Linked DNA regions of Homo sapiens. The protein of the gene in region 5 purifies or fractionates together with the protein of the main gene of each other region. This does not show direct contact. Each region holds a gene or a part of one and is shown on either strand. Other genes may lie near its edges. The genes, in order: DSC3, HGFAC, NDFIP2, ZDHHC9, NRSN1, PUSL1 and PACC1.

Region 1 (3,500 bases), on a different chromosome or scaffold from region 5:
AGGATTACAGACGTGAGCCACCGTGCCTGGCATCTTTAAGTACTTTTTAATCTCAGTGAGTCATCTTTTATTTGAAAATCAAACACTGTATAATCATGGTGTTCAAAATCCATGTTTCTGTCATGTAGGCTATGTACCTAATGATGACTAACCTTTTGAGTACTGATTAAAGAATGACATCACTATGTTGTTAACTCTAAAGGAATCCTCCTCTTCCAATGCCCTGGTTCTTCCTTGCTAGTCAGAATTATATCCAGGGAAAGAGTGCATGTTATTCATTCCTTTATACCTCAAAGAGTTAAGTAATCAGTAGGCCAAACCAAGAATTGCTCTGGTATACTTTTAGCTGAATAAAGCTTGCAAACATTGTCTTACTAGTTAGCGTCTCCTTTTATTGCAATATATTGGCTGTTAACAAAAACATACAGCATTTATTCCCTTCATTCGCCTCTGTGACAGCTTGAGAGATTACTCAGAATTTAGTGTAAAGCCTTATTTTATGCTGTAGTGTTAAATGTCATTCTTACAACAATTTCACAGAAGAGAAGAGTTAAAGAGACTAAATAACTTTCCCAATGCCACACAGCTAGGATGTAGTGTAGACAGAATTTGAACCTAGCTCTTTGACTCTAACTATACGCTGTCAAGCACTATGTTAAATTGTTTTCCACAGCTGTGTGATCTTGGAAAGTTGGCCTCTGTGTTATCTGTAAAATGGGAACAATACTTCTTTCTGCCTCCCTAATAGCTCTTCAAATATAATATTGAACGTAACAGCACTTGGTAAACTGTGGGATATTATTATTTTATTTTAAAAAGTTATGCTATGTCCTTGAGACTAGTGTTATAATGTTCCAAAATAGATAACTTTTCTGTAACCACAAAGCATGAGTGATACAGGCTTTTGCTGTGTTCTGGGTAAACTCATTCCACCTCAGTGGCTTCTGTCCATTGGAGCAGCAGCAGTGACGCATATGGGCTTGAGTGAGGATAGTATTATTCTTGGTCCTTCTCAACATGGAGAGTCCTCAGCTCCATTTCCACAACTATACATTTTCTAGGGAGTTGTTAACATCTCAGTGCAGATGTGGGATATTTTTAAGCACTTTTTTTAAGTGGCGAAACAAAAACGTACCCTGAGGTGGAAGAGAATTTACAGGCTTTCCTATTAATTAATGAGATTAACTAATCCCATTAATCTTTAGGATTTCATCTCACCAGATTTTTAATTTTGGAGAGTTTTAAGCTACTAAAACAATATCCATCTTAAGCCTCGAAAAATGGGACAAAGAAACTCCAAGGCTTCAGCGAGTGTTTCTGGATTGAATAGTTGCACCTCCTCCAGTGCAGCAGCTGTTCTCTAAATTTCCATCCATTTCTCATTGCCAGCAGTTGCTCTTACTCTCTGTGTGATCACACCAGCACATGAAATGTGTGAAACAGTATTCATCAGCATCAAACGAACAGATATTAATATTTTTTTCCTTGACTCTCCAGTTTGTGGGATATACATACAAAATAAAAAAAGGTTTTACATATGTTTTGTAGATTCTAAGATTCAGAAACTTTCTTGACTTTTTAGTGGACTCGTGATACTAATGTCTTACTCTGTTAATACCTAGGTGTGGAGAAAGATTTAAAATAATTTTATTCACCAGTTTTGATTTTGTTCAATGTTTAGCCAGTGATTGTTTTGATAAGCAGAAAGAGAAATTGAAGAAAAAGTGCTTCAACTTTATAGTACAGTGTAACATAATGTTTTATGGGTTTTACTTGATTTGTTATCTAAAACTGAATTTTAGTCAAAGATTGATTTGGAAATTTTTTAGAGATCAGTGAGCCAATTAAGCAGCACACGATAGCAGAGGGATTATAGCGTAGGCTAAGGAAATGGACTCAGGTCAGACTACCTGGCTTCAAATTCAAGCTCAAATGATTATCTTTTGGTCTTAAAAAAAAATCAGTTTATCTCCTTTTCCCGTTTTCTGCTCTGTAAAATGAGGATGAGGTCAATAATACTTACTTCATAATGTCATGAGGATTTAGTGAGTTTATTTTCACTGTTAGAGTAGTGCCTTAGATTCAATGATAATTAAAATCAATCACATAGTATTTCCCTTACTCCTCTGTGTATCCACTGTGAATGTTTCATTGGATAAATTATAGACAATGCCAAAGTATAATTCTCAAGTTTTCAAAAATGTAATTTTCATAAAAACAGGTAGTGGGCATGGATGGATAAAGGTTTTAACTCATTCATGAAGGAACCAGCAAAAAGACAAGTTGATTCCTAAGAAGAAATGAGACTCTGGATGGATTTTGATAAAAGAAAAGCAGCAATTAGATGGCTCAGTTAGATGCCTTAGAGGGCAATTAAAACACACATTTGGGGCCGGGCATGGTGGTTCACGCCTGTAATCCCAGCATTTAGGGATGCCAAGGGAGGTGGATCACCTGAGTTCAGGAGTTCGAGACCAGCCTAAGATGGCAGAACCCCATCTTTACTAAAGAAAAAAATACAAAAATTAGCTGATTATGGTGGCACGTGCCTGTAGTCCCAGCTACATGGGAGGCTGAGGCAGGAGAATCGCTTGAACCAAAGAGGCAGAGGTTGCAGTAAGCCAAGATTGCGCCACTGCTCTCCAGCCTGGGTGACAGAATGAGGCAAGACTCTGTCTCAAAAATAAAATAAAAGAAAATAAAATACTGGAGATATCTTTTCTATGAGACAGAAAATGAAATCATTGCACCTTTTGGTTTTGTGAAAGTCAACATCAAACTTTACAAGAGTTATAAAATGCCTGGGCCATAGTCAGTAGTAACTGATAAGCCAAATAAAGGCAACTTCCCATACTCAGATGACCGTTAGCCCAGCCTGTTAGACAGTGCTCCAAGCAGGACCATAAGAATACTGTCATCTGTTTGCATTACTTTTTGAATCAGAGTAATTTTCCTTAGTAAGAGTGAAATATGAAAATATTTCCGGAATTTCGTTTGTCCAACTCTATGAAACTACCTGCAGAAGTTGTTGGACCATTCTTGGTAGAGGCTTAGCACGGGATCCACTCTCTGTTTAGCAAGGGATAAAAGTCAGTATTAACAACATGTGAACATAGAATTTATGCAGCACTGGTCAGGATGACAAATGTTCACTTGCCATTTGAAATGCCAGATGTATTTTACACTGACACTGATATACATGGACTTTATTTTAAAGCCACTGAATTATGAAGAAAACCGTCAAGTGAACCTGGAAATTGGAGTAAACAATGAAGCGCCATTTGCTAGAGATATTCCCAGAGTGACAGCCTTGAACAGAGCCTTGGTTACAGTTCATGTGAGGGATCTGGATGAGGGGCCTGAATGCACTCCTGCAGCCCAATATGTGCGGATTAAAGAAAACTTAGCAGTGGGGTCAAAGATCAACGGCTATAAGGCATATGACCCCGAAAATAGAAATGGCAATGGTTTAAGGTAAAAATAAATCTATAACCACATAC
Region 2 (2,510 bases), on a different chromosome or scaffold from region 5:
CATGGGCCCCTCCCTCCCTCAGCCCCCACAGAGGCAGCCTGTGGCCTCCTCCCTCCCGGGAAGTGCAGCCCAGGCTCAGGCAGGCGGGCTGCCATCTGGAAGACCAACGACGGCCTGCGGGTGTTCCCGTGGGGCCGCTCTTTCTTCTTCAGGTTCAATACTCCGTGCACCACGCGGATCGGACCCCTCCACGCCTGGGGGCCTGGACTTGGTTTCCACTTCCTGCCCTGGGACAACCCAGGTGCTGAGCCCCGGCCTGGGGCTGGCCTGGGAGGGGGCTGGACTCTGCTGGGGCCTGGAGAGGCCCAGACCTCATCCCCTGACAACTCTCTGGGCCGTGGGGCCAGACCCCGCTGTGGGGCCACAGGCTCCGTCTCCACTGAGGACTGTGTGCGCTCCAGAACGGCAGCCTGAGGCCTGCTGCGCATAGACCTGGGCCCCAGTCATGGCCTGGAGGGGAAGGCGGGGCCGCAGGCAGGGGCCAGGCAGCGTGGGCCGGGTTCTTGGAAATATCTTTATTGTCAGCAAGGCAGGGAATGGTGGGAACCAGGGTGTCCCGCTGGAGGGTCAGGAGGGAGCCACAAGCCGCCTGGGAGGCCGTATCCGGTCGTTGATCCAGTCCACATAGTTGGCCACGCGGGTGTAGACCCCCGGCTTGTGGAGCCGCCCGCAGCCGTCACCCCAGCTGATGATGCCGTAGAGGTAAGCCACGCCGTTCTTCTCGCAGGCCAGGGGCCCCCCTGAGTCCCCCTGGGCAGAGACGTTGGTCAGAGCCACCCTCCCAGGGGCCTGGTTCAGGGACCCCCCTCTCCCCCAAGTGGCAGCTTGGGGACAGAGGACAAAGGCATTTCTGAGCAAGGGAGCTGATCCACTCTCCTGAACCTCATGAAAAGGTGTCTCATTCCCTGGGGGCAGCACTGGCTGGGCCAGGGCATCCAACCACGTTATTCCCCTTCCTGAAGCCACGGTCCCCCTCTCCCCACCAGCATGAACCCTGTGTGGACCACACAGCCACCCTGTGTCCCAGCACCTCCTGAAATGACTTCTTCACTCCCTGGAAAACTCCTACGCATCACTCAGGACCAGTGCAAACACTCCCTCCTCCAGGAAACCATCCTGACTTCCCTTATCGAGGTCCAGTGACAAGCCCTACCCACTCTACCACTCCTGGGCTTTGTGGCCTTGGAAGAGTGAATTGACTGCCTGGGGCTCAGTCTCCCCAGCTATAAAATGGGGCATAAGAGAGCCGTCGCATGCCAGGGTTGCCGTGCCGCCTGAGCACACAGGCCTGCAGAGCCCAGGACGTGGTTGGGCTGTTGGGCTTATTGAAGGTTGAAGAACTTATTGAAGGTTGAAGAGCTGGCTTGAGAGAACTCGGGGCAAAGGGGCCTTTGGTGCCTAGTGTCACACGGAAAGCACTGCCTTGGGCTGGACAGCCAGGAACTGTCCGGGCTCTGTGGGACCCCAGGCCCCTCTCAGAGCCTGGGTCTCCCCTTCTGTGTGAGGAGGATGCCCTTCCGGCAGGGCTCTGGGTGGCCCTGGGGTGCTGGCCACCGACAGTAAGTGTGCTCCCTGCCCAGGGGTCCCTGGCTGGCCCTGCCAGGTTGGGGTGCCGCCAGGCTCTGGGCTCCCCAGGGGCAAGCATCTCGGAGACTCAGGACCAGCTGAGCCCCCACCAGTCGGGTCCTGGTGGGGCGGGCACCAGCTCACCTGGCAGGCGTCGGACTTGCAGTCGAAGTAGCCGGCACAGAGCATGTTGGGGCTGATGTCGGCGCCGTAGACCTCAGGGCTGCTGCACTTGTGGTCGGCGACCAGGGGGACCAGGGCCTCCCGCAGGGAGCTGGAGTAGCCGCTCACGTCTGTGGGACACAATGCCCTCAGCGTGACACCCACACTGTGGCTGGCCACTGTCCACCCTGGCGGGGCGCTGGGCGCCCCCCTCCCAACTCACTCTCATCCAAGTGGCCCCAGCCCGCAATCTGGCACTTGTGTCCTGCGGGGAAGGTGCTGCCGGGCTCGGGCAGGCAGATGGGCTGCACGAACTGCGAGCGTGTGGCACAGCGGTCCCCTTTCTTCTTCAGCCGGATCAGGACTGATCAGAAGAGTGGCCAGGGTCAGCCTGTGGTGTGCGGGCTGAACGGGAGGCTGTCGGGGCCCGTGGTGGAGGGAGGGTAGCCAGTGGGGTCCACAGGGCAGCCTGGGAGATCCAGAAGGGAGCGGTGCCCTGTCCTCCCTGCCCTGCCCCCAGCTTCCCCCGCACCACATGTCTGCCCAGCTCCTGCCCCTGTCTGGGCCTGGCCTGGGGAGCACAGGGCCCACCTGCCCAGAGTGCAGCCACGACACGCCGGAGCTCACCGAGGTCGTGGTCGCTGGGGTTGAACACCGAGTACAGGGTGTACGGGATGTACTTCTCGATGCCGAAGGTCTGCGTCACGTCCGTCGTGCGGTTGAAGAAGTGCTGGCCCAGCACCACGGAGACGCTGTCCCTGGGGGGGCTGTGCAAGGGGGGC
Region 3 (3,500 bases), on a different chromosome or scaffold from region 5:
CTTAGTGGCCATTCCTCTAGAGTGAACAATTATTTTCAAATGTTTGTGTTTCGATTTTTTCTATTAATATTATAAAAGACATCTTTGGGCATATTGCAGTGACTCACTCCTGTAATCTCAGCACTTTGGGAGGCTGAGGCAAGCAGGTTGCTTGAGCTCAGGAGTTTGAGACCAGCCTGGGCAACACAGCGAGACCTTATTTCCACTAAAAAGAAAAAAAAAAATCAGCTAGGTGTGGTGGCATGCACCTGTAGTTCCAGCAACTTGGAAGGCTGAAGTGGGAAGATCACTTGAGCCCAGGAGATTGAGGCTGTAGTGATCCCGGATGAAGACTGCAGTGAGCCATGATTGTGCCACTGCACTCCAGCCTGGGTGAGAGTGAGATCTTGTCTTAATTTTTTTTTTTTTCCTAAATGATGACTTTTGATAAAATTTCTGTATTGATTTTTTGGTGGTGGTTGTTTTGTTTTTGAGGCGCAGTCTCACTCTGTCTCCTAGGCTGGAATGCAGTAGTGCAATCTCAGTTCAGTGCAACCTCCGCCTCCCCAGTTCAAATGATTCTCCTGCCTTAGCCTCTTGAGTAGCTGGGACTACAGGAGCACGCCACCACATCTGGTTAATTTGTTTTTGTATTTTTAGTAGAGATGGGTTTCGCCATGTTGGTCAGGCTAGTCTTGAACTCCTGACTTCAAGTGATCCACCCACCTCGGCCTCCCAAAGTGCTGGGATTACAGGCATGAGCCACTGTACCTGGCCTGGACTGATGTTTTAAAATACACAGTATGAAATATATTTTTGCCATCACACTGACAATTTTTTGTTCTTACTGTGCTTTAATGTTTATTTCTTGAATTAATTTGAAATTATTTAAAATTTTATAAATATGCACTTAGTCATGGCCAGTCATTAAATTTAGTATATTGAGTTTACCTATGATATATGATTGCACAATTTAAGGGATCTTTGTGCCCGAATAATAAGCAATATAAAATGGTTTTGAAAGTTTTTTTATTTCAGGATAGCAGTATGCTTAGTGAGACTACCATGATTGTGTGGAAACAACATCAGTGTCCTGGATTCAAGTTCCACTTTGACCCTCCTAATTATGTGATATTGAGCAGAGCCCTAGCTTCTCAGACTTGGCCTCACAAAATTGAGTTATTCACACTCAACTGAGATGATGTGTACCGTATTAGTCCATTTTCACACTGCTATAAAGAAATACCCAAGACTGGGGAATTTATAAAGAAAAGAGGTTTAATTGACTTACAGTTCTGCAGACTGTATAGGAAGCATAGCAGCTTCTGGGGAGGCCCCAGGAAACTTACGATTGTGGCGGAAGGTGAGGGGGAAGCAGGCCCATTTTACATGGCTGGAGCAGGAGGAAGAGAGAGAGTGAAGGGGTGATGCCACACACTTTTAAACAACCAGATCTCAGAAAAAACAATAATGCACTCACTCACTCTCATGAGAACAGCGCCCAGGAAAATGATGTGAAACCATTAGAAACCACCCCCATGATCCGATCACCTCCTACCAGGCCCAATCTCCAACAGTTGAGGATTACAGTTGAATATGAGATTTGGATGGGGACACAGATCGAACCATATAATTCTGTCCCTGGCCTCTCCCAGATCTCATGTCCTTCTCACATTTCAAAATACAACCATGCCTTCCCAAGAGTCCCCCAGAATCTTATTCCAGCATTAACTCAAAGAGTCAACAATCCAAAGCCTCATCTGAGACAAGGCAAGTCCCTTCCACCCACGGGCCTGTAAAATCAAAAACAAGCTAATTACTTCTAAGATAAAATGGCACTATAGGCATTGGGTAAATATGCTGGTTCCAAAAGGGAGAAATTGGCCAACAAAAGGGGATACAAGCCCCATGGAAGACCGAAACCAAGCCTGACAGTCATTAAATCCTAAAGTTCCAAGATAATATTTTTTTGAGACGGTCTCACTGTCGCCCAGACTGGAGTGCAGCGGTGTGATCTCGGCTCACTGCAGCTGCTACCTCCCGAGTTCAAGCGATTCTCATGCCTCAGCCTCCTGAGTAGCTGGGATTACAGGCATGTGCCACCATACCTGGCTAATTTTTGTATTTTTAGTAGAGGCAGGGTTTCACCATGCTGGCCAGGCAGGTCTTGAACTCCTGGCCTGAAGTGATCCACCTGTCTTGGCCTTCCAAAGTGTGAGATTATAGGCGTGAGCCACAGCGCCTGGCCAGAATAATCTTTGACTCCACGTCTCACATCCAGGGCTTACTGGTACAAGGGGTGGGCTTCCCAGGCCTTGGGTAGCTCTGCCCCTGAGGCTTTGCAGTGTACAGCTCTGTGGCTGCTTGAGGGACTGGCATCGAATGCCGGCAGCTTTTCCAGAAAAAAGGCCACCAATGCCTCTACCTGGAAGACATGTAGAAACATGATAGACTTGGGGAGAATTGTCTCCTAACATAGTCTGCTGTTGATGGGCATTTAGATTGTATCTAATCTTTTGCTCTTATTAACATTGCTGGAATGAATTATCTTTAATACATCATTTTTATAAGAGGGAATATGTGTGTGTGTGTATACATATATATATATGTGCAGTGTATTTTAAGAACTGGAATTGCTGGATCATAGGGTATGCACATTTTTATTTTTGATAATTATTGCAAAATTGCCAACAATATAAGTTGTACCAATTTATACTCCACCACTGGTTATGAAAGTTCTTATTTCCCAGTCATTACTAATGGAGCACTGTCACATGTATCTTCTTGATACCATTTTTATGAGTTTGATGTTATTCATCTTTTATCTTTTTTGTGTTTATCTTTAAAGTTACTCTTTTCAAATGTGACTGTGAAAAAATATTAGTTGCTAATGCTTATTGATTACTCTGTGCCAGACATTGTACTCATTATTGCATTTGTCTATACAACAAATTGAGAACATTAGATGTTGCTGAAGTTCTTATGCTTACATTTAAGATGATAAAGTTGTAATTTTTAGTGAGCTATTCCAATGTTACATATTTACAGATTCAGGAGGAAGAGTGTCCACCAAGAGATGACTTCAGTGATGCAGACCAGCTCAGAGTGGGGAATGATGGCATTTTCATGCTGGCATTTTTCAGTAAGTAATCTTCCTAAACTATTTTGGGTTGTTTTTATGAATTGGCTGTATGTGTATTAAAGTAACATAGTGAAGAGAAGCAAATATTGTTAGCATATGTCTACCTTTCTTAAAATGTAAATTGTTCCTGATATTGGACTAATGAATACTGTGATCATATGTTTAAATACAAATCCTAGAATTTATCAAACTCTTGTTGGATAAATTTATGCGTTGCAGCCATTATGAAGATGCTGACATGTAAAAGTACATAAGCATATTTAAGCTATTTCAGATTTTTAAAGAGAAATACTGCTATATTGGTGCCCATTCAGCTCTGTAGGAGCGTATAGAATGAAACTATAAATTGCACTATTGGGGCAGAGGATTTCCATTTGAG
Region 4 (3,500 bases), on a different chromosome or scaffold from region 5:
CGTCTCTACTAAAACATACAAAAATTAGCTGGACGTGGTGACATGTGCCTGTAATCCCAGCTGAGACCCTGGCTGAGGCATGAGAATAAAAAACCCATGAGGTGGAGGCTGCATTGAACCGAGATTGTGCCACTGCACTCCAGCCTGGGCGACAGAGTAAGACTCTGTCTCTAAATAAATAAATAAATAAATAATAGGACATTCGTACATTAGACTGATGGAAAGAGTTCATACCAGAAAGCTAAATGACAAAATGGGAGATAGGCTACATTTACAGTGTGAAGTCAGTTACCTATTTTTAAAAAATCTAATGATGTATAAAGAAATATGCAAGGAAATACAGGAAATATGCCACAATTTTTATAGTTTATTATCTATAGGTTGTGGGATTATGAGTGATTTTGTTTCCTTCATTTTTTCATATGCCATCCTCCACTACTGTGATTTCTTCATTTTTCCTTTTATTTTTTTCAAGTTTTCTACAATGAGCATGTATTACTTGTATTATCAGAAAAAATGTGATTTAAAATACTGTAAAAAATATATATCTGTATAACCATTCTTCTCTATACCTTTCTTCCCTTTCCTGAAAAGATGTAGCTTCCTCAGCAGGAGATAGACCATTTTTACAGCCTTATTTTTTCACCAGTACACAGCTCACTTTTCTTTCAAATTGATATATTTTATTCTTTTTTTTTTTTTTTTTTTTTTTTTGAGACGGAGGCTGTCTCTCTCTCCCAGTCTGGAGTGCAGTGGCGCGATCTCAGCTCACTGCAAGCTCCGCCTCCTGGGTTCACGCCATTCTTCTGCCTCAGCCTCCCGAGTAGCTGGGACTACAGGCTCCCGCCACCACGCCTGGCTAATTTTTTTGTATTTTTAGTAGAGACGGGATTTCACCGTGTTAGCCAGGATGGTCTCTATCTCCTGACCTTGTGATCCACCTGCCTCGGCCTCCCAAAGTGCTGGGATTACTGGTGTGAGCCACCACGCCTGGCCCAAATTGATGTATTTTATTCTTTTGTAGTCTTTTATTCATCAAAATAACACATGTTCATTGTGGAAAATATGGGAAGTGCAGAAAGTATAAATAAAACTTAATCCTAAATTCACTCTCCATTTTGCTATATTTCCTACTAGTGTTTCTGCAAAATTGGACTGTAACATGATAGTTTTTAATCCTGCTTTTGTCATTTAACATTCTATCCTGAGCGTTTTTCTACATCTTTAATAAATGTTTCTTTAATATATTATTTTAATGACTGCATAATCCATCATATGGTTCTATTCAAGTTTATTCAGGCAGTCTTCTGTCATTAGACATTATTCATTCTTCTATTTTATTCATTGTTGTAACACTGCAATCATAATTATTAAACTTAAGGATGTGGAACAATTGGAACCTTCATACATTTCTGGTGAGAATGTAAAATCATGCAGCTGCTGTGGAAAAGTTTGGTGGTTCCTCAAAAAGTTAAACATAGAATTACCACATGACCCAGCAATTCCACTCCTGGGTGTATACCTATATTAGTCTGCTTGGGTTACCATAACAAAATACCTCAGACTGGCTGGCTCAAACAATGGGAATTTTTCTCTCACAATTCTGGAGGCTGGAAGTCCAAGATAGAGGTGCGAGAAGGGATGGTTTCTGGTGAGGCCTCTCCCCCTGGCTTGCAGATGGCTGCCTTCTTGCTGTGTCCTCACGTGACCTTTTCTCTGTGCTCACACACTACTGGTGTCTCATCCTCTCCTTACAAGGACACCAGTCCCATCGGATTAGGGCCCCATCCAGATGACCTCATTTAACTTTAGCTACCTCCTTAAAGGTTCTGCCTCCAAGTGCAGCTACATTGGGGGTTAGGGCTTCAACATATGGAACTGGGGAGTGGGGGTACAGTTCATTCCATAACAATAGCCAAAAGAATTGACAACAAGGACTCAAAACCTACTTGTACGCCAGTGTTCGTAGCATCATTATTCACAGTAGCCAAAAGGTGTAACCAACCCAAGTGTCTATCAACAGATGAATGGTTAAACAAAATGTGGTATGTACATACGGTGGAATATTATCCAGTCATAAAAAGGAATACAGTACTGATACAATGTGGATGAACCTTGAAAACATGCTATGTGAAAAAAAAAAAGACACAAAAAGACAAATATTGTGTGATTCCGCTTATATGAGATATCTAGAATGGGCAAATTCATAGAGACAGAAGATTAGAGATTGCTAGGGGATGGGGAAGGGGGAAATGGAGAGTTACTGCTTAATGGGTGCAGAGTTTCTGTTTGGAGTAATGAAAGGGTTTTGGAAATAGATAATGGTGATGGTTCCACATTATGAATGTAATTAATGCCACTGAATTGCACACTTAAAATGGTTAAAATGGCAAATTGTATGTTATGTATATTTTACCATAATAGATTTTTTTTTTAAGACAGGGTCTCACTCTGTCACCCAGGCTGGAGTGCAGTGGCGTGATCTCAGCTCACTGCAACCTCCGCCTCCCGAGCTCAAGTGATCCCCCCACCTCAGCCTCGTGATTGGCTGGGATTACAGGTGTGCACCACCACGACCCACGGATTTTTGCATTTTTTGGTAGAGATGGGGTTTCACCATGTTGGCCAGGCTGGTCTCAAACTCCTGACCTCATGATTCCCCTGCCTGGGCCTTCCAAACAATACAAAATTTAATTTAAAAGTTTGAACTTCGGCCGGGCGCAGTGGCTCATGCCTGTAATCCCAGTACTTTGGGAGGCTGAGGCGGGCATTTCACCTGAGGTCAGGAGTTCGAGACCAGCCTGGCTAACATGGCAAAACCCCGTCTCTGCTAAAAATACAAAAATTAGCTGGGCGTGGTGGCGGATGCCTGTAATCCCAGCTACTCGGGCAGCTGATGAGGCTTGAACCTGGGAGGTGGAGGTTGCAGTGAGCCGAGATCGCACCATTGCACTCCAGCCTGGGTGACAAGTGTGAAACTGTGTCTCAAAAATAAATAAATAAATAAAAATAAAAATTTGAACTTAAAATTTCTGTGTACATTTCTATTTTCTTATGAGAAATTGCTGAAAATGGACTTATTCTACCAAAGGGGTACAAGCTTTATGAAGGCTCTTGATACGTACTGCCAAATTGCTTTCTGGGAAGGTTCTTTCATTTTATGCTCCCACAAGCAGTATGTTAGAGTGTCCATTTTACCCTATTCTCACTAGCACTGGATTTTATTATTTATATTCTTATTTTGATAGGCATAAAATATGCTATTATTTTACTAGTATTACAATGAATTATTGGTGACTAGGAAAAATATTAAATATAGGTTTTATGGTATTTATTAGTTTTTGCCCTATTTCCTTTTTGTTTGTTTTTTGTTTTTGTTTTATGTGCAGTCGACTCTTGAACAATGCAGTTTTGTACTGCATGGGCCCACTTAATAATGAGGGTTTTTTTTTTCCAATAAATACAGTATCAGTGTGTTCCTCATCTGCAACCAAATGCGG
Region 5 (3,500 bases):
ATACCAAGACAGTGTTAAGCTCTTTGTAAATACTATCTCATTTAATTCTCATATCTTTTATGTGGTTGGTGCTATAAGTATCACCATTAGAGGCCCCATAAGGCCAATTAATTTGCCCAGGGTTACAGAATGATTAAACAAAAGAGCTGGGGTTTGAGCTCATGTAGTCTGAGGTTAGAATCTATGTTTATAATTATTAGGCTATACAGCCTCTTGTTACACTATATGGCCAATAAATTGCAAGTTTATGTCAATATCCATGTCAAAAAATTCTGGGATCTTTTGGGAGAAACAAAGATTAAGGAAGACCTTAGGCATTATCTAAGGTTCATCTTCTCAGTATCCCTGAAGCCTCTTCCCCTTCTTAGTTTCTAAATGTTGGAATGTCCCAATGCCCTCTTCTCTTCTATGTCCACACTCTTCTCCTGGATGATCTCAGAAGTCTAGTGCCTTGTATAGATTCTATGTGTCAATAACTCCCAATTTATGAGCCGTAGATTGATATATTTAAATTGTCACTAGAGATCACTACTCCGATGTCTAATAGGCATAACCTTTACCTAAATCTGACTACTTTTCACCATCTCCACTAACGCCACCAGCATCTTTTGCCTGGGTACTTTAACACCCTCTAAATTTATCAACCTCTTCCAGTAGCTTCCCATGTCTCTCGAAGTAAAAACCCAAGACTTCACTGTGGTGTACAAGGCTCTACATAAATCATCTGTGCCTTGTTATTTTTCTTAATTCATTGCCTGTCCCTTTTCTCACCCCACTCCAACCAGATTGGAGACCTCTGGATCATTTTCAAACACACCAAACTTGTTCCCATTTCAGAGTTTTTGGACTTACTATTTTCCCAGTCTAGGATGACCTTCAGTCAGGTCTGTTCCCTCAACTCATCCTGGTATTCCTTGAGATGGCATCTCTTCTGAAAGCCTTCTACCATCAGCATATCCAAATACCAGTCTCCATCACCCCCTGTCATCCATAGCACTATCACTACCTAACATTCTATCATGTGGTTTCTTTGTTTACAGCCTGTTTCCCATGATAGATTGTAAGCTCCATGAGGGAAGTCACTTTTTCTTTCCCTGTTTACCACTTTAACTTCCAGAACTTTGAACCCTCTTGGCACAGAGTAGATGCTCACTAATTATCTGTTGAGGGACTAAATACATTGTCTAATGAGATTCCTTCATTTGAGGAAGCTGGGGTCAGAAAGCCTCATGATCACACACTCGGTAGAGACGGAGCTGGTATACTGACCACTGTACTACATTTCATCATTAACTCTCTCTAAATACCTAATGATTTCTTTTTAATAATTGTTGCAACTTGTCAGATGATACTTACCACGCCTGTAAGGAAGGCTGAAAGAATATAATGTTTTGCCTATGGATGGCTTCAATTAGTGAATTTAATGGCACATTTTTAATGGTAGCAATAATAATAATTCATATGGCAATTGCACCTATTTATGTTTAATCTGCTCATCAATAGTTGTGCTGTGTTTAGAGGCTTTCTTTGGCCCAAGGTTTAGATTCTTCTTTCCTAAGGTAAGAAAAATGCATTTAGTATCACCAAGAGTGATGCACACACAGCGAGTACTAAACCTCTCCATCCTCCACAGCTGCAGTATTAACCATGTCCAATAATTTTTCCATTCCCTAAGTTAAACACATGCTCCTTCCTTACCTTCCAGAATACTGAGCTCCACCTGTTAGGTGATCTTTGGATCTGGAAATCATCCTCATACTCCCAAATTGAGGCTGTACAGTCCTCATAAAACTGGTGCAGGTAGGACCGGACTCCATAGCGCTGGTAACCACCCTCAGCTGCAGCCTGTGCCTGCCTGGACCCACAGACGTTGCTGCAAGAACTCATCCTTCCCAGCTGGAATGACAACATCCACATGGATTAATGCCACAGGCTTTGGCCACAGGATCAAAAGACATATGAAAGGTAAGAACCAGACTGAGTAATGTATGCCTAGTTGAACAATGCTCTTTTCATTACAGAAAAGGTACTTTTAAAGACCCCTCTCTCTTGGCGGGGCGCAGTGGCTCACGCCTGTAATCCCAGCACTTTGGGAGGCTGAGGAGGGAGGATCACGAGGTGAGGAGATGGAGACCATCCTGGCTAACACGGTGAAACCCTGTCTCTACTAAAAACACACACACACACACACACACACACACACACACACAATTAGCTGGGTGTGGTGGTGGGCACCTGTAGTCCCAGCTACTTGGGAGGCTGAGGCAGGAGAATGGCGTGAACCCGGGAGGTGGGGCTTGCAGTGAGCCAAGATCGCACCACTGCACTCCAGCCTGGGTGACAGAGTGAGACTCCGTCTCAATAAAACAAACAACAACAACAACAAACCTGTCTTTCTTATAAGCTGTTCTTCTTTTTTGCTTAATGCAAGATTACCTAAACACTCAATGACTAGAACTGCATCTCCATAAATGAAATGAGATACAACAGCACAACTCACATAAATTAGGTACACATTTAAGCATGAAGCACACAAGAAATGGCAACAAAGAAGCTGAGATTTTTTATTGCCTTGACAAGAAATCTTTAATCTCTTAGAATCTAGTTGTCTTTGCACTTACATGTTAAAGAATTGGGCAGGCATTCTCATTTGCTGAAGATGGAGTTTGTCTTAGACTGTCCTCTCAGATTTTTAACTATGTTTCCTTGTGGAATCTACACCGCATTACTCTTACTAGTTTGAAATTTTGCCTTCCGATCTCATGTATCTTCCTCTGACATTTTAACTAATTGTCAAGTTGTATGAAGCTTTATTAAAAAGCTGCTGAGCAATTTATGCCTCATGCTTTATTAATCACAAATGGCTTGGCCAATAATTTACACCTCACTAACTCTAACACCATATATTTTACCCATTGTTTGTGGATACATCTGTCCATGTGGGTGGCTAGAGTATAATGTGGAGAGTGGACACAACCTTTTATTATTTTCCATGAAGTGTCTACTGTAAGTAAGAACTCAGAGAACTGTTAAATAAAACTATGTCCTAGGCAGGTTGTTTTGGGTTCTGCCTTTTTAAGATGGAAATTTCTACTTTATTTGACCTAATTGATACCCTTAGAGAGAGGCATTTATATGGATTTTGTTACTAATCATGGTTAAAAAAAAGAAAGAATTACTGAGTGACAGTAATTTTGTTGAATAAGGGAATTGTCAGTTATCGTCTTAATTTCTGATCTCCATATAAGCAAATAAATGTATAGCTGGAAATGTGAAATACGTGTTTGGATTTTTAAATTATCCTGTACACAGATGGTAACACAGTGACACAGGGAGGGGAACATCACACACCTGTCAGGGGGTGGGGAGCAAGGGGATGGAGAGCATTAGGACAAATACCTAATGCATGTGGGCCTTAAAACCTAGGTGATGGGTTGATGGGTGCAACACATCACCATGGCACATGTATACCTATGTAACAAGCCTGTACGTTCTGCACA
Region 6 (4,031 bases), on a different chromosome or scaffold from region 5:
TGTTCCCCACGCGCTGCTCTGGACACAGGATCAAGTCAGAGACCAGGGGCCGACGCCCCCACGGACCCAGACGACCCTGGCCAGAGCTGGACTGCAGGGCCCGGGAGGGGCTCAGCCCAGTGGAGGTGCAGACACAGAGCGGGGGCGGACGGTCCCGAGGTGCCCACGGCTGCCCACGCGCACGCCCTCCACCCGGGGCGGCCGCACAGGGCAGGAGCGTCTTTTGTTCCAACCCCCGGGGCATGGCGGGGCGGGGCCGCCGCTTTGTCCGAGGCCGGTCCTCCAGCCCCTCCCCGGCGGCCGCGGCCCGGCCCGGCGCTGACCTCCCCACCCCGCCGCCGGGCACAAAGGCGACAGCGACGCCCCCGGCCTGCGCCCACCCCGGCGGCCCCGGGCGGCGCACCTGAAGCGCGGGGAGTCCTTGACGCACTCCTCGAACTCCACGGTCATGGCTGCGGCGGCCGCGGCGCTCACTGGCACGAGGACCGCGGCGCCGAGCGGCAGCCGCGCCGGCCCGGACCGCTCGTCCCGCCCGCGCCGCCTCGGCGCCCGCCCGCCCCGGAATGAGGCCGCCGCGCCGCGCCCCGCCCCGCCTGTCACCGCCGGGGAGCGTCGCCAAAGTCAGCCGCCCGCGCGCACCGCCCGCTGTCACTGCCGGGGAGCGTCGCCAAGGTCCGCCGCCCGCGCGCGCCGCCCGCTGTCACCGCCGGGGAGCGTCGCCAAACGCCTCTCGCAGCGTCCAGGGACCACCCCGGTCCGGAAGTGAGGCGGGGCCTGCCACGGCCGTCTCCGGGGACAGTCGGTGGAAATGTGGGGCGCGGGGAGGGCGCGGGGAGGGCGCGGGCCCGCCCGCTCCAACCATCCCGGCCGTTGCGCAACTCAGGGCGTTTGCAAAAACCACGTCTGGGAGGACTTGGCCGCAACGCGGCGAACGGGCGCGCTCGGGGAGTGTGGGCGGCGGCGAATGAATGAGCGAGTGAACGAATGCACGCCCGCGAGAGCGCGGGGTGACCGCGTGGTTGGTGCGCGCCTCCCGGGGCGCCGCGATAGAGGTAGAGCGCCTGCGCTCGGCGGCGGGCCGGCACTTTGCAGCCGCTCCCTAAGCCCGGCCCCGCCTCCGCTCCCCGACTCTGGCCGCCGTGGCGCGGTGCCACCGCGCAGGCGCAAGAGCGGCCGGGGCCGGGGGGGAGGGGGGGGGGGCGTGACCAGGCCGCGTCCGCGCGCGCGCAGGATTCCTGCGCTGGAGGCCGCCTCTGACGCCACCGGCTGGGCTCCGCCATGAGTTCGGCGCCGGCCTCAGGCTCCGTGCGCGCGCGCTATCTTGTGTACTTCCAGTACGTGGGCACCGACTTTAAGTAGGTTTCCCAGGCGCAGCGGCGGGCGCCACGTGGGCCCGGGCGGAGGCGGGAAGGAGGGCGCGGGCGGGCAGGCGGATGTCTCTGGACGCGGGTTCCAAACGTTCGGGGAAGGAAGCGGCCCTGGCCTCAGACGGCGGCGGAGACCCCAGGGCAGGGCGCCCCCGGTAACCTCCGCCCGCTTCTGCCCGCAGCGGGGTCGCGGCCGTCAGGGGCACTCAGCGCGCCGTCGGGGTCCAGAACTACCTGGAGGTGCGCTCAGCCGGTCACGGGACGCCCGGTGAGGGGTAAGGGGGAGGCTCCCGCCCGCGCGTCCCCGGGGTCCGGCCTCGCTCACCCGCCCGCCCCGCGGCTCGGTCCTGCAGGAGGCCGCCGAGCGGCTGAATTCCGTGGAGCCGGTCAGGTTCACCATCTCCAGCCGCACGGACGCCGGGGTCCACGCCCTGAGCAACGCGGCGCACCTGGACGTCCAGCGCCGCTCAGGCCGGCCGCCCTTCCCGCCCGAGGTCCTGGCCGAGGCCCTCAACACACACCTGCGGCACCCGGCCATCAGGTGAGCCCGCGACCTAAGCAGCCCTGGGGCTGTGCCTTCCCGACTCCATCTGTCGCGGGCGGAGGCTGGAGATCTGGACAGACTTCCTTGTCTGGTCGGAGCTCGAGGGGGAAGGAGAGCCAATGTGACACCGCGGGCGGGCGGGGTCGTTCCTCCGGTGAGCTTTACCTGCCGCCATAGGGTCCTGCGGGCCTTCCGAGTGCCCAGCGACTTCCACGCTCGTCACGCAGCCACGTCCCGGACCTACCTGTACCGCCTGGCCACTGGCTGTCACCGGCGTGATGAGCTGCCGGTGTTTGAACGCAACCTATGCTGGACTCTCCCGGCAGAGTGAGTGTGGCCCTGACAGCGGGGAGGGGGCGGGCAGGCCGGCCCCACCCTCCTGACGGTCACCCTGGTCCCTGAAGCTGCCTGGATATGGTCGCCATGCAGGAAGCCGCCCAGCACCTCCTCGGCACACACGACTTCAGCGCCTTCCAGTCCGCTGGCAGCCCGGTGCCGAGCCCCGTGCGAACGCTGCGCCGGGTCTCCGTTTCCCCAGGCCAAGCCAGCCCCTTGGTCACCCCCGAGGAGAGCAGGTGAGGAAGGGCCCCTGGGCTGTGGCCCTGCCCTCAAGTCACGTGCTGATTTTAGCTCCAGCACCTCCCCCAGTTTTAAGGCAAGGTGAGGCGGGAGGCAGGCAGCCGGGAGTCCTCAGGACCTGGACAGCTGGAGGGGATTCGCCCGGACGCCCCCCAGCCTCCAGCTGTGCCCTCCCCCCAGGCTGGGGAGCGGAGAACAGGGAAGGCTGCTTGTCTCTGAAAAACCCCTGCCATGCCTGATGGAAGAATGTTGGCAGCTACTGGAAAGGTCTCACTGGTGCCAGTGGTTCTGGTGGGGTGGTTTCTGCTGCCCCCAGCACTGTCCCGAGGGCCACCCACCAGGTGGCAGCTTCTGACCAGAACCTCCCCTATTGGGGTGAGCCCTGAAGGGGGGAAGAACTTCTGCCAGCCCCAGACTTCTGTGGCAGAGCAGCAGGTACAGGACTGGGGGTCTCTGGCACCCGCACCAGCCACGTTCCCAGACCCTGCACCAGGACCCTAGGTGAGGGCCCAGGGCAAGCCCCTCTGGGATGGCCAGGCTACCTGCCCAGCCTCCAGGGTCCTGCTGCCTCCTTGCCCAAGCATTGTTTCTCTGGTTTTAAGCCCCTCCAATGGGCCTCACTGGGGGCAGGAGATCAGCCAGGGCCCCTGGTGGCCAAGCTAGTGGGAACCAGGCTCGTCTTTAGGCCCACCCTGTCACTCTCCCGTCCAAGGCCACATAGTAGGCTGAGGATGGCAAACACTGCCCCACAGACACCTACAGGTACGTATTTTTCCAGGAAGCTGCGGTTCTGGAACCTGGAGTTTGAGAGCCAGTCTTTCCTGTATAGACAGGTAGGCTCTGTTCTGGGGCCGTCCCCAGGGGGTGGGGCTGAGGGTGGGCAGGCCCCTGTGCAGTCTTGGCTCTGGGTCGTGGGCGGCTCTGGGTCACAGGTACGGAGGATGACGGCTGTGCTGGTGGGTCACGGGCGGCTCTGGGTCACAGGTACGGAGGATGACGGCTGTGCTGGTGGGTCACGGGCGGCTCTGGGTCACAGGTGGCTCTGGGTCACAGGTACGGAGGATGACGGCTGTGCTGGTGGCCGTGGGGCTGGGGGCTTTGGCACCTGCCCAGGTGAAGACGATTCTGGAGAGCCAAGATCCCCTGGGCAAGCACCAGACACGTGTAGCCCCAGCCCACGGCTTATTCCTCAAGTCAGTGCTGTACGGGAACCTCGGTAAGAAAAACAGGCACGAGAAGCTCCTGTCATGTGCCCAGTGACTACTGTGGCCGAGGCATGGGGTGGGGGGCCAGGGGCCACTGACGGCAGCAACTGGGGGTGAAGCAGCCCCCCGCCCAGGGCTGCAGTCCCTCAGGCCAGCCCGTAGCCCGTCCTGGGCTGGCCCACTCCCTGGTCATGGGAGTGGTCTCAGCGGTGGGGAGGGTGCTGGGCCGGTCTTGCCCCAGGCTGACGCAGGGTCTGGTCCGTCCACAGGTGCTGCCTCCTGCACCCTGCAGGGGCCACAGTTCGGGAGCCACGGATGACCCTGGACACTCAAGCC
Region 7 (3,229 bases), on a different chromosome or scaffold from region 5:
AGCTGAGTAAAGCATGCCTCGGGTACTGGGCTCCACTTGGCCCATAATAGGTACCTCATACTGAATATAGTAGGTTAAAAAATGTTTTATCACACATTACACAACGAGCTGCAAGCCCTTCTCCCCAGTCTTGATTCAATAAGCCTCTGCACATCCCTCTTCATACAAAGCCTTGCCAGTCCATAATTAATAGTGGTAGTGGGTGATAGCAGAGCAAGCACATCCGTATCACAGAATCCCCACCTGGGGGTGGAAGCTTACACGTTTGGGTCTCAGCTATGAAACAGTTTCCTGTAAGCCATGATCACATCAGGATATATTATGATGACATGAATGCCAATCAATACTAGATTTAGGCCTGGCTCTGGTGGACGGTGTGTCTTAAATGTTCCTTTAGCAAAGCTGTCCAATTATTCCTCCCCTTCCAAGATCATGAGTCAGAATTTGACGTTAGAGGAGGTGGAGCCAGATGGCTAAAGAGAACCCTCCAGCGATAGTCCTCTGCAGCAACACCAAACTCAGCTATCCATGTAAGAAAGTATCTACACAAGAGCCAAAAAACCAGGTGAGAGATCACAGTATCTGGTTTAGTATAATAACAGGAAAAGACACACTGAAGAAGAGTAGAAAGGAGGGTCTCACGCTGCCTACACACCCCTCCCCCAACCTTAGGCAGTGCAGCAGAGAGAATCTGTGAGCTTGGGAGAGGGAAGTGAGTCTGGAACTTGCATTGGAACTTCACAAGGGAAAACAGCACCAGGCAGAATTCTGAGGCCCTGATTCCAGGCTAGAGCCCGTGAAAAGAGTATTAGGCCCACCCCAGATCAGAGGGGCATCTACCACCCCAGTGGGAGGAAACCAAGTCTGGGCCCACTTTACAATAGACTAAAGTGGCCTTAGGCCCCAAATAATTTCAGTGGCAGCCAGGCCATAGCAACCACAGCTCTGATACTGCACTGGTCTGGGAGTCTGTGGGTTTGGGGTGTGATCCAGCATGACACCAGCTGCCTCAACTCCAGGCAGTGCAGCATGGTGGAACACTCCTGCTTGGGCAAAGGAGAGGGAAGAGTATGAGGGACTTTGCCTTGGAACCTAGTACCAGCCCTGCCACAGCACCAGGAAGAATCCCGAATCCCCTAATTATAGGCTATTGCTCCCAAATGGCACTTCTAAACCCACCCTGGCCAAAAGGCAATCGGCCACCCTAGCAGGATGGACCCAAACCCCAGCCAGCTTCACCACTGGCTGACTAAAGTGGCCTTAAGCAAACCCCAGTATTGCATTGGTTTAGGAGGGACCCAGGGTGGTGCCAGCTGTGACAGCCATGGGAGTACCTGCCTTACCCCTCCCCAACTCCAGGCAACTCAGAGCAGAGAGACTCCTTCCCCTTGAGGGAAAGATAAGGGACTTTGCCTGGGAACCCCCAGGGCATTCTCTCTGATCCTCCCCAAGTACATCAGGGCTGGATATCTAGAAGTCTACAAGATAGTCACAGTGTAACTTGGCTTAGACTGCCCTCTAGTGCTGAAACAGCTGCAGTGACTGACTACACGCTTAGGGAACTCATCATCAGTCACCTTTCAATTTGTAGAAAATCTCCTGAAGATAGATGGGTATAAACAAGGGCAGACTGTGAAGACTGAAATAAACACCTAAATCTTCAATGCCCATAGACAGACGTACACAAGCACCAGAAAAGTTCAGAGAAATACAATCTCATCAAACAGACTAAGGTGCCAGTGACCAATCCGGGAGAGAGAGATGTGTGACCACTCAGGGAATTCAAAATAGATGTTCTGAGGAAACTCCAGGAACTTCAATGAAACACAAAGACTCAATTCAGAAATTTATCAAAGAAATTCAACAGAGATTAAAATAATTTTTAAAAATTCAAATAAAAATCCTAGAGCTGAAAAGTACAATTAACAGACTGAAAAATGCATCAGAGTGCCTCACAGAATTGATCAAGCAGAAGAATTAGTGAGCTTAAAGACAAATTATATGAAAATACACAAATAAAAAAAAAAGAATGAAGAACACTCACAAGGTCTAGAAAATAGCCTCAAAAGGGTAAATCAAGAGTCAATGGCCTTGGCCGGGTGCGGTGGCTCATGCCTGTAATCCCAGCACTTTGGGAGGCCGAGGCGGGCGGATCACAAGGTCATGAGATCAAGACCATCCTGGCTAACACGGTGAAACCCTGTCTCTACCAAAAATACAAAAAATTAGCCGGGCGTGGTGGCGGGTGCCTGCAGTCCCAGCTACTCGGGAGGCTGAGGTAGGAGAATGGTGTGAACCCGGGAGCTTGCAGTGAGCTGAGATTGGGCCACTGCACTCCAGCCTGGGTGACAGGGTGAGACTCCGTCTCAAAAAAAAAAAAAAAGAGGCAAAACAAAAATATAAATAGATATAATAAAAAGTCAAAATGTGAGGAGTATGGAGTTGAAGTGTAGTTTTAAAAGTTTTTTGTTTCTTTGTGATCAAAGTTAAGTTGTCCTCAATTTAAAATAACTTGTTTTAACTGCAAGATGTTTTTTATAAGCCTTATGGTAACCATAAAGCAAAAACCTATAATGGATATAATAAAAATAAAAAGTAAGGAATTTAAAGAGATAATCATTTATCCACAAAGACAGTAAGAAGAATGAAGTTACAAAACCAAAAAACAAAAAACGAAATAGCCGTAGTAAGTCCTTCTCTATCAGTAATAATATTGAATGTAAATGGACCAAATTCTTAAGACACAGTTGCTGAATTTATTAAAAAACAAGACCCAACGGTATGCTGCCATACAGCGTATAGTTCACCTGTAAAGATACACAGATTGAAAGTGAAGAGACAGGCCAGGCGTGATGGCTTATGCCTATAATCCCAGCACTTTGGGAGGCCAAGGTGGGCAGATTGCTTGAGATCAGGAGTTTGAGACCAGCCTGGTCAACATGGCAAAACCCTGTCTCTACTAAAAATACAAAAATGAGCCAGGTGTGGTGGCGCATGCCTGTAATCTCAGCTACTTGGGAGCCTGAGGCAGCAGAATCACTTGAACCCGGGAGGTGGAGGTTGCAGTGAGCCAAGATCATGCCACTGCACTCCAGCCTGGGCAAGAGAGCAAGACTCCATCTCAGAAAAAAAAAAAAAAAAAGTGAAGGGATAGAAAAAGACATCCCACACAAATGTAAATAAAAAAACAGGTTTAACTATACCTGTAACAGATAAAATAGACTTCAAG

Evidence for each region.
Region 1: the proteins of NRSN1 (region 5) and DSC3 purify together in Homo sapiens (affinity purification with mass spectrometry; one large-scale study listed by BioGRID and IntAct). This does not show direct contact.
Region 2: the proteins of NRSN1 (region 5) and HGFAC purify together in Homo sapiens (affinity purification with mass spectrometry; one large-scale study listed by BioGRID and IntAct). This does not show direct contact.
Region 3: the proteins of NRSN1 (region 5) and NDFIP2 purify together in Homo sapiens (affinity purification with mass spectrometry; one large-scale study listed by BioGRID and IntAct). This does not show direct contact.
Region 4: the proteins of NRSN1 (region 5) and ZDHHC9 purify together in Homo sapiens (affinity purification with mass spectrometry; one large-scale study listed by BioGRID and IntAct). This does not show direct contact.
Region 6: the proteins of NRSN1 (region 5) and PUSL1 purify together in Homo sapiens (affinity purification with mass spectrometry; one large-scale study listed by BioGRID and IntAct). This does not show direct contact.
Region 7: the proteins of NRSN1 (region 5) and PACC1 purify together in Homo sapiens (affinity purification with mass spectrometry; one large-scale study listed by BioGRID and IntAct). This does not show direct contact.

The regions. Positions count from the first base shown.
Region 1 is NC_000018.10:31,008,243-31,011,742, reverse strand, and holds part of DSC3 (desmocollin-3 isoform Dsc3a preproprotein), read left to right. Parts: intron 1-3,217; coding exon 3,218-3,474; intron 3,475-3,500. UniProt on the Homo sapiens protein: A component of desmosome cell-cell junctions which are required for positive regulation of cellular adhesion. Required for cell-cell adhesion in the epidermis, as a result required for the maintenance of the dermal cohesion and the dermal barrier function.
Region 2 is NC_000004.12:3,447,477-3,449,986, reverse strand, and holds the end of HGFAC (hepatocyte growth factor activator serine protease isoform 2 preproprotein), read right to left. Parts: intron 2,496-2,510; coding exon 2,356-2,495; intron 2,093-2,355; coding exon 1,952-2,092; intron 1,860-1,951; coding exon 1,711-1,859; intron 751-1,710; coding exon 568-750; 3' UTR 501-567; downstream 1-500. UniProt on the Homo sapiens protein: Serine protease that hydrolyzes the inactive zymogen hepatocyte growth factor (HGFsc) to an activated disulfide-linked heterodimer, then initiating hepatocyte growth factor receptor signaling pathway.
Region 3 is NC_000013.11:79,536,655-79,540,154, forward strand, and holds part of NDFIP2 (NEDD4 family-interacting protein 2), read left to right. Parts: intron 1-3,027; coding exon 3,028-3,121; intron 3,122-3,500. UniProt on the Homo sapiens protein: Activates HECT domain-containing E3 ubiquitin-protein ligases, including ITCH, NEDD4, NEDD4L, SMURF2, WWP1 and WWP2, and consequently modulates the stability of their targets. As a result, may control many cellular processes.
Region 4 is NC_000023.11:129,816,387-129,819,886, reverse strand, and holds part of ZDHHC9 (palmitoyltransferase ZDHHC9), read left to right. Parts: intron 1-3,500. UniProt on the Homo sapiens protein: Palmitoyltransferase that catalyzes the addition of palmitate onto various protein substrates, such as ADRB2, GSDMD, HRAS, NRAS and CGAS. The ZDHHC9-GOLGA7 complex is a palmitoyltransferase specific for HRAS and NRAS.
Region 5 is NC_000006.12:24,132,715-24,136,214, reverse strand, and holds part of NRSN1 (neurensin-1), read right to left. Parts: intron 1,897-3,500; 5' UTR 1,888-1,896; coding exon 1,699-1,887; intron 1-1,698. UniProt on the Homo sapiens protein: May play an important role in neural organelle transport, and in transduction of nerve signals or in nerve growth. May play a role in neurite extension. May play a role in memory consolidation.
Region 6 is NC_000001.11:1,307,366-1,311,396, forward strand, and holds the start of PUSL1 (tRNA pseudouridine synthase-like 1), read left to right. Parts: upstream 1-1,231; 5' UTR 1,232-1,278; coding exon 1,279-1,355; intron 1,356-1,549; coding exon 1,550-1,607; intron 1,608-1,720; coding exon 1,721-1,908; intron 1,909-2,088; coding exon 2,089-2,238; intron 2,239-2,315; coding exon 2,316-2,486; intron 2,487-3,268; coding exon 3,269-3,323; intron 3,324-3,422; coding exon of another isoform or gene 3,423-3,435; exon of another isoform or gene 3,436-3,474; coding exon of another isoform or gene 3,475-3,543; coding exon 3,544-3,706; intron 3,707-3,964; coding exon 3,965-4,014; coding exon of another isoform or gene 4,015-4,031. Other genes in the region: ACAP3 (arf-GAP with coiled-coil, ANK repeat and PH domain-containing protein 3), read right to left, coding at 404-450.
Region 7 is NC_000001.11:212,366,658-212,369,886, forward strand, and holds part of PACC1 (proton-activated chloride channel), read right to left. Parts: intron 1-3,229. UniProt on the Homo sapiens protein: Chloride channel gated by pH that facilitates the entry of chloride ions into cells upon exposure to extracellular acidic pH. Involved in acidosis-induced cell death by mediating chloride influx and subsequent cell swelling.